Homo sapiens: one gene and its partner. The protein of the gene in region 2 interacts with the protein of the main gene of each other region in a pairwise test. Each region holds a gene or a part of one and is shown on either strand. Other genes may lie near its edges.

Region 1 (3,825 bases), on a different chromosome or scaffold from region 2:
CAGGAATCAGGATTTCTGGCTTAAGCAATGGAAAGGAAAAAACACAGTTGTAGAAAATTGGTTGGAAGTAAAACAGGGAGAGGAACTGAGTTCCACAGTGCACATGTTAAGTTTGAAATGTTAAAACAGAGATGTCAAAGAGACTATTGGATATGTGACTCTGGAGACTCAGAAGAGAAGTCTGGACTGAAAACATAAATTTGAGAGTCATCAGGACATATAGATATGAACTGTGCATGAAATTATAGATGAGTCACCTAGGCAGAAAGAAAATAAAAAAAGTTTACAGTTCCAAACCTTGAGAGTTGGGTAAAAAAAGAGCCCACAAAGATTACTGTGAAGCAGCAGCCAATAAAAAAAGGAAACTAAAAAACCATAGTAACACAAAAGGAAAGTCTTTCAAGGAGCAAATGACCCACACAGCCAAATGCTGAGGAAAGGGCAAGTAAGATGGCAGAAAGCACTGGCCCCTTAACAGAAATAACTCTGGCAGAGTGGAAGGCTAACTTCAAGTTAAAAGTTAGAGATAGCTATTTATGCCACACACGAGAGAAAAGAAACAATAGCAGAGGATATATAGAACATTCTTCCCTGCAACTTGCACCAGGAATATTCTCAATGTCCTCTCTTGTGGCTGTAAGGGTTAAGTAGGTTTAAGTTGTTTGGAATAAAACAGACATGTTGGTGCACAGGTAATGAATGCAAACACAAAAGGATCAGCCTAAAATGAAGCATTGAGTGAGAAGGAAAAAAAGTATCTGTCTTGTGTTTGATAAATCTGAATGCCTCTAAGAGGAGGCTGCTTAACACCTCTTCTTATAAATCTATGACATACGCATTATTTTAAAAATCATGCCTGCATACTTAGAAAAATACAAACACTGTAGTCCATGAGAAAAGTCCAAAACTGCTTTTGAAAATATATTTGTGATCTGAACTCTAGTAATGATTTCTGCACATCTGTGCTAACTGGCTTTGTTCTATCAGCCAAAAATATTCTTTGGAAAAAAAAAAAAAAAGTCTGATAGGAGAAATACCAGGACAAGGATTGGGTGGAGTTAAAGGAGAGAGAAAATCAGCCAACATACAATCTGGAGACAATTAGACCAACATTAGCCCAGGAACAGTCAGAGTTCGAGTCTGCTTGCAAACATTTTATGCCAAGAGAAAAAAATTCAACAAATAAATCATTAAAGTAAATAAAGTAAAGGACAGTGCTAGGGAGCTAGAGTTAATGAGAATTCTTGGAGTAAAGATCAGTTCTGGGTGACATCTTATATAGGGTGACCATCCTTTCTCATTTATCCAAGACAGCAGTACTGGTATTCTGATGTAATTATTACTAGCACTACCTTTCCTTCTTAAGAGTGTCCCAGTTTGATAGAACATTATATGGTCATACTATTTATATGCCACACATTTCTATGACTGAAAAAATATAAGCAGTTAATTACTAAATGATAGGCTAATACAATATTATAAACTATGGGATTAGAATCTACTCATTTTTTATTTGAACCATGTCTCATAGCTCTCCTTAGAAAAAGAAACATAAAGTAAGCTGCATTAAAAAAAATGTATAGGTATCACGGCTGAAAATAGATAAAACATCTAAAATTCAGTTCAGAACACAGAACAAAGTAATATTAGGTGCTTTCAAATGTTTCACAAACATTTTTTGGTATCTTTTATTCAGTATTTATACTGATAAAATCAAGAACATCAAATTAATGGACTGACATTTATTTAAATCTCTCAAGTTGCTGAAAAATATTTCAAAGGACTTGCATGGAATCAAGAATCCATAATCTTTCCTGGGTTGTTTTTTGGTTTTTTTTTTTCCCCAAGACCAGTAACCCAGATTATTCACTCAATGGTGACTTTGGAGAAGGGAGGGAAAAAATAGCTTGCATCCCATGTACTACTCTGAAAGCTGATAAATTTCAGCCAGAAAGTCATTCAGACTTTTAGTTTGAACTAGTATGATCAGACTACTATGCTTTCTGGGAGCCACCATGTTATCTTATGCTAATGTGGAAGGCTTCTACTTGCTGCAGTTAGTGCAGAATAAATAATATTCTTGTAAAGCTTACCTGAACTGTAATTTCAAGCATTCAATCCATAACTTGTTCTATTCTTTAGCAAGACGCTATCTCAACTCTCGTAAATCCAAAGGCTATTAGATTTAAATTTAATTTTTGATGGATCTTATGTGGACACTAACAGAATTCAAAATTATAGAACACGTAGGGCAAACCTGCACAAATTACTTATGAAAATTAAATATACTATTAAACTCTACCAATATTCAGGGGCACCGTTAAGAGATCATCAAGGTGAATATTTTAAGAAGTATGATGAATTTTGGCATGTAAAAAAGCAGGAAATGCTATGTTTTCCAACATTATGACATCTATCATTGCTATGTTGCGTTGCAGCTACTGCCATAAAATCCTTTGGGTCCTCCACTGACTTGGCATACTGTACTCCACAAAAATAACAGTTTTTTCAGGAAGGCTAAGTGGAGACAAGCCTGCAGGATTGTGGTGATCATCTTTCAACAGTATGGATGTAACACAGTAAAAATCAGGAAGAAAGATTGCCCTCAACCTACAAATCCTTAAAGAGATAAAAGTAAACAAATCTGTAATAATTTTCAAGCATTATACTGTGCAATAGTTACCATACTGTGACCTCCCTTTGCCTTGTTAGTCAAGGACCTGGCTCCATTTGGCTCTAATACAAATTCTAAATAACACAGGGAAATGTTTATCAAAAAGTATACAACTATAAAAATGTCCACTATACCTTCTTCTAGTTAACATAATATAGAAATTGCATTTTTATACAATTAAAGCCTTTTGCTATTGACAAGCAATATGGAAATTTATCAAGTCATTATTAAATTGCAACAAGGGAGGGATTCAACAAAGATCACAATAAATGAGTATAAATGATTTTACCTAATGACTGCAAATAGGTTCAATCATGTTATTCCACCATATCATATCCATCCACAGGTGAGACAGTAACAAATATTAGATGTATTATATGTATAAACACATGATAGATAAAATAATTATTAAAGACATTATATATAATATGTATATATTTCAATATGTATATTAATGCACACAAACTGAGATTTTAAGATTACATCTCTATAGGAATTTTAAAACTACAAAAGGTTTCAAAGTAAATTTAATTTTACAATATTAAAAGTAAAATGTATTAATGGTTTCAGTAATTTATGTGTTCTACTACTCAAAATATACACGAACAATTTAGATGCAATGTTATACTACAGATAATTCTCTTGTTTCAGCTTCATTAAATCACTTAGGCCAAAAGATAGATGCATGCCATCTTACCTGTAGCTGTTTTTCTGGATAATACCATCTGATGTGTCCTGTGCCTCTTTAGCAGAAAATCCTAGAAGGTGCCTCCTTTGATTTGCAGGGCTCACACTAGGGTTCATTCTCCTGGAATCCTGTTCCAACATGCTGAAAATAAAAAACAGGAAATAATAGCTGAAATAAAAATATGTCACACATATGCCTGCTACATGCAGCTGTGAAACAAACCACAATTCCTTTGCAGATCCATGCACGTAACAAAAATGCTAGGCATAGACGCAAGTACAAATAGGGTACTGAAGGTGTTCAAATCCTTAGCATGGTAACCTGCACATATCAAAAACAATTTTTCTAAGTATAAAAGTACCTTATTTATAAACTGTTTAAACAATAGTAGTGTTCTATATGTTTTAAAAACTTGATAATTACATGTATATATGAAGTAGAAATAAATACGACACACCTAAAA
Region 2 (3,600 bases):
TGCTCAGGAGGCTCTGGAGTTGGGACAGCCCAGTTAAAAAAAAAAAAATCATTGATTTCCCTCCCAACGAAGAGGGAGAAAACACGTTAGGAGACTCGTGGCCCAGTCCTGGCAAAAACCAAAACTATGTCCCTTTAGAGGGCTTAGATATCAAGAGATGGACTTGCTTTTAGTTCTTTTTCCCATCCTGTTCCCTCCCTACCAAAATAAAATTGACCAGCTAATCCGACTTAATAACACTAAAGAATTACTTAGGAACCTGCTATCTTAACATTTCACTTTTTGCATATCCTCCAAATACCAGGTAGCAGTCTTACTACTGTTTGCACCCCTAGAACCTGGAATAGTGCTGCCCGCAGAGGAGGAAGCAATAATTACTTGTTAGAGAAGGTATTGCTGTGCATTTCTGGGGAATTTCACATTTTGTAATTTGCTTTAAAAAAAGTGGACAGGCATATTTACGGGGGTTTCTCGGACTTCTCCATGTTAATATTCGTGTGTATAAATCGCTCCCGTGCTGCTCTCTGGGGGCCCCTCTTTCACAAACACCTGGCCACCCTCACGCCACAATGGCCAGGCAGGAACCTCGACCTCCCCTCGGAGAGGGGGCTCAGGGTCAACCCCGGGGTCTCAGTCTCTACATGTGACGTTTTCCTGTCCCCTCATTTAAAATAACAAGAGGCTGGGCGCAGTGGCTTACGCCTGTAATCCCAGCACTTTGGGAGGCCGAGGCGGGCGATCACGAGGTCAGGAGATGGAGACCATCCTGGCCAACACGGTGAAACCCCGCCTCTACTAAACTACAAAAAATTAGCCGGGTGTGGTGGCGGGCGCCTGTAGTCCCAGCTACTCGGGAGGCTGAGGCAGGAGAATTGCTTGAACCCGGAGGCGAAGGTTGCAGTGAGCTGAGATCTCGCCACTGCACTCCAGCCTGGTGACAGAGCCTGACTCCGTCTCAAAAAATAAGAAAAAAAAATAAAATAAAAATAATAGAGGCCGAAGCGGGAGGTTCACTTGAGCTCAGAAGTTCGAGATCAGCCTGGGCAACACAGTGAGACCTCGTTTCTATTTAAAAAATAAAATAAAACTAAATTTAAAAAAATGCACGCTCATAGTACAAACTTTAGAAATGGAACGAAAAACTAAAATTGAAGGTATTCCCCTCCAACCCAGAGATAACACCTATCGTTTATTAAGCCCTCACTATTGTTAAACTTAGTTTTAAAGGGCACGATCTCATTTCTTAAAGACTTCTATTCCGCAGAATTTCTTTCCAGGCTTTTTTCTTTTTCTTTTTTTGAGACGGAGTCTCGCTCTGTCGCCCAGGCCGGGGTGCAGTGGCGCGATCTCGGCTCACTGAAACCTCTGTCCAGTCTTTTCGAACCCAAGGCCCAACTGCGCTCTATCTCGACTTTCGGCTCCACTCGGATCCCGAAGTGGCGCACGAGATAAAATGTTGTCAGGCTGAGGTAATTCTCTGTTAGTCCCGGTAAAAATTCGTCAGTCTGGAAAGCTCTCGGTTTGGAATTAAATTCTGTCACTCCGGATGGAAATAAGTCCGCTTAAGGGGGGAAAATCCGTTTGTGGAGGACACGCTCCCGCACGTAACCCCCCGCGGAAAATGACCCCAAGTACCTTTGGCCAGGGATTGCCGCTGCCACGCCGGACTCCATAGCCACGGTCCTGAAACGCCCCGCCGGGCAGGCCGGACCAATGGACGCCGAGCTCGGCCGTGCGTCACGCGACGCTGGCCAATCGCGGAGGGCCACGACCGTAGAAAGGCCGGGCGCGGCGAGGCTGGGCGCTGGGCGGCTGCGGCGCGCGGTGCGCGGTGCGTAGTCTGGAGCTATGGTGGTGGTGGCAGCCGCGCCGAACCCGGCCGACGGGACCCCTAAAGTTCTGCTTCTGTCGGGGCAGCCCGCCTCCGCCGCCGGAGCCCCGGCCGGCCAGGCCCTGCCGCTCATGGTGCCAGCCCAGAGAGGGGCCAGCCCGGAGGCAGCGAGCGGGGGGCTGCCCCAGGCGCGCAAGCGACAGCGCCTCACGCACCTGAGCCCCGAGGAGAAGGCGCTGAGGAGGTGGGCGAGGGGCCGGGGTCTGGGGCCAGATCTGAAGCCGGGACTAGGGACAGGGGCAGGGGCAGGGGCTGGGAGCGGGGACCCAGCACTGGCCGCCCCGCAGGGCTCCGTCGCCTTTGGCCTGGCGGGTCGGTGCCAGCGTGGCGCGGGGCGGGGCAGGAAGCCCGGACTGACCGGATCCGCCACGCTGGGAACCTAGGGCGGCCCAGGGCTCTTTTCTGTACTTTTTAACTCTCTCGTTAGAGATGACCAGAGCTGGGGATGCGGGCACCTGTCTTCCAGGCCCTCTTGCTGTGTGGCCGCAGACTGGTGGTTCAGCCTCTTAACTCGGACATGAGGTCGAATAATCTGTTTTGGTTTACTGCTATTTCTGGAGAGGCGCGGAGCTGAAATAACAGAGCTGTTGAAAGGGCTGGGAATTCTGCGAGGCTCACTGGTCTAGCTCAGTATCTGCGTTCTTAAAATGGAACCTACTTCATGAGGTCTTTGGGGAGATTGAGACTTGGATATAATGTGCCTAGCACTTAGTCCTCCGTAAATGTTCACTCTTTTGTGATCATTGTGCCTTCTGTGATTTATGAAGTGTCTCTTCTGAGTTAATTCTTTTAAAAAAAAAAGTGTCTCCTCCAACAGACACGGACCCATCAGCAGGTCACTGCCTAGGATCTCAACACTAGAGATCAGGGAGTGGCATCAGCCTCTCCCTTTTCTAAATTGGACTGGGGGACGGAGGGTTGATGTCATAGCAAGATTGCAGCCTTCACTAGATTAATGAGGCCAGGTTGGATCCTGTTTAAGAGAACTGGAGACAGGAAGCAGCGGGGGAATAGATGGGGAAAGAGGAAAGTTCCTTATGATGCAAGATGAATAGTGTGTGTGTCCAGCCCCAGTGCTGTGACGGGGATGAGTCTGAGGTGGACGGATGATGCAATATAGGAGAGAATAAAGCAGGTCTTCGAGCTAGATTGACAGAAGACTGTATTTTTTATTTTGTTTTATTGAGGGGAGGAGCCTGAAGTGTATTTTATCATTAGTCTGTCTTATACTGTAAATAAAAATGAAAGCACCAGCTGGTAAAGTTTTCAAATAAAGACATAAATAAGGTTTGATATGACTCAGTGTGGTATGTTCCTTCTCTTCCTAGGAAACTGAAAAACAGAGTAGCAGCTCAGACTGCCAGAGATCGAAAGAAGGCTCGAATGAGTGAGCTGGAACAGCAAGTGGTAGATTTAGAAGAAGAGGTAAAACTACTTAAGGTCAAACTCTTTTATCCATTGTATACCCTTCCTTGGTGAATGTTCTGATATTTGCTTCCCATCCCAAGTTGTTTCAGCCCCTATTAGAATACAATTGAATATATGATTAAAAGTTAAACTAGGCTGGGCATGGTGGCTCATGCCTGTAATCCCAGCACTTTGGGAGCCTGAGTTGGGCAGATCACTTGAAGCCAGCAGTTTGAGACCAGCCTAGCCAACATGGTAAAATCCCGTCTCTACCCAAAAATATACCAAAAAAAAAAAAAAAA

What was found. The genes of interacting proteins can lie anywhere in the genome.
Region 1: the proteins of XBP1 (region 2) and ATF6 interact in binary tests that used the Homo sapiens proteins (3 or more experiments, as listed by UniProt).

The regions. Positions count from the first base shown.
Region 1 is NC_000001.11:161,846,127-161,849,951, reverse strand, and holds part of ATF6 (cyclic AMP-dependent transcription factor ATF-6 alpha), read right to left. Parts: intron 3,504-3,825; coding exon 3,372-3,503; intron 1-3,371.
Region 2 is NC_000022.11:28,798,773-28,802,372, reverse strand, and holds the start of XBP1 (X-box-binding protein 1), read left to right. Parts: upstream 1-1,803; 5' UTR 1,804-1,848; coding exon 1,849-2,075; intron 2,076-2,295; exon of another isoform or gene 2,296-2,336; coding exon of another isoform or gene 2,337-2,413; intron 2,414-3,219; coding exon 3,220-3,316; intron 3,317-3,600. UniProt on the Homo sapiens protein: Functions as a transcription factor during endoplasmic reticulum (ER) stress by regulating the unfolded protein response (UPR).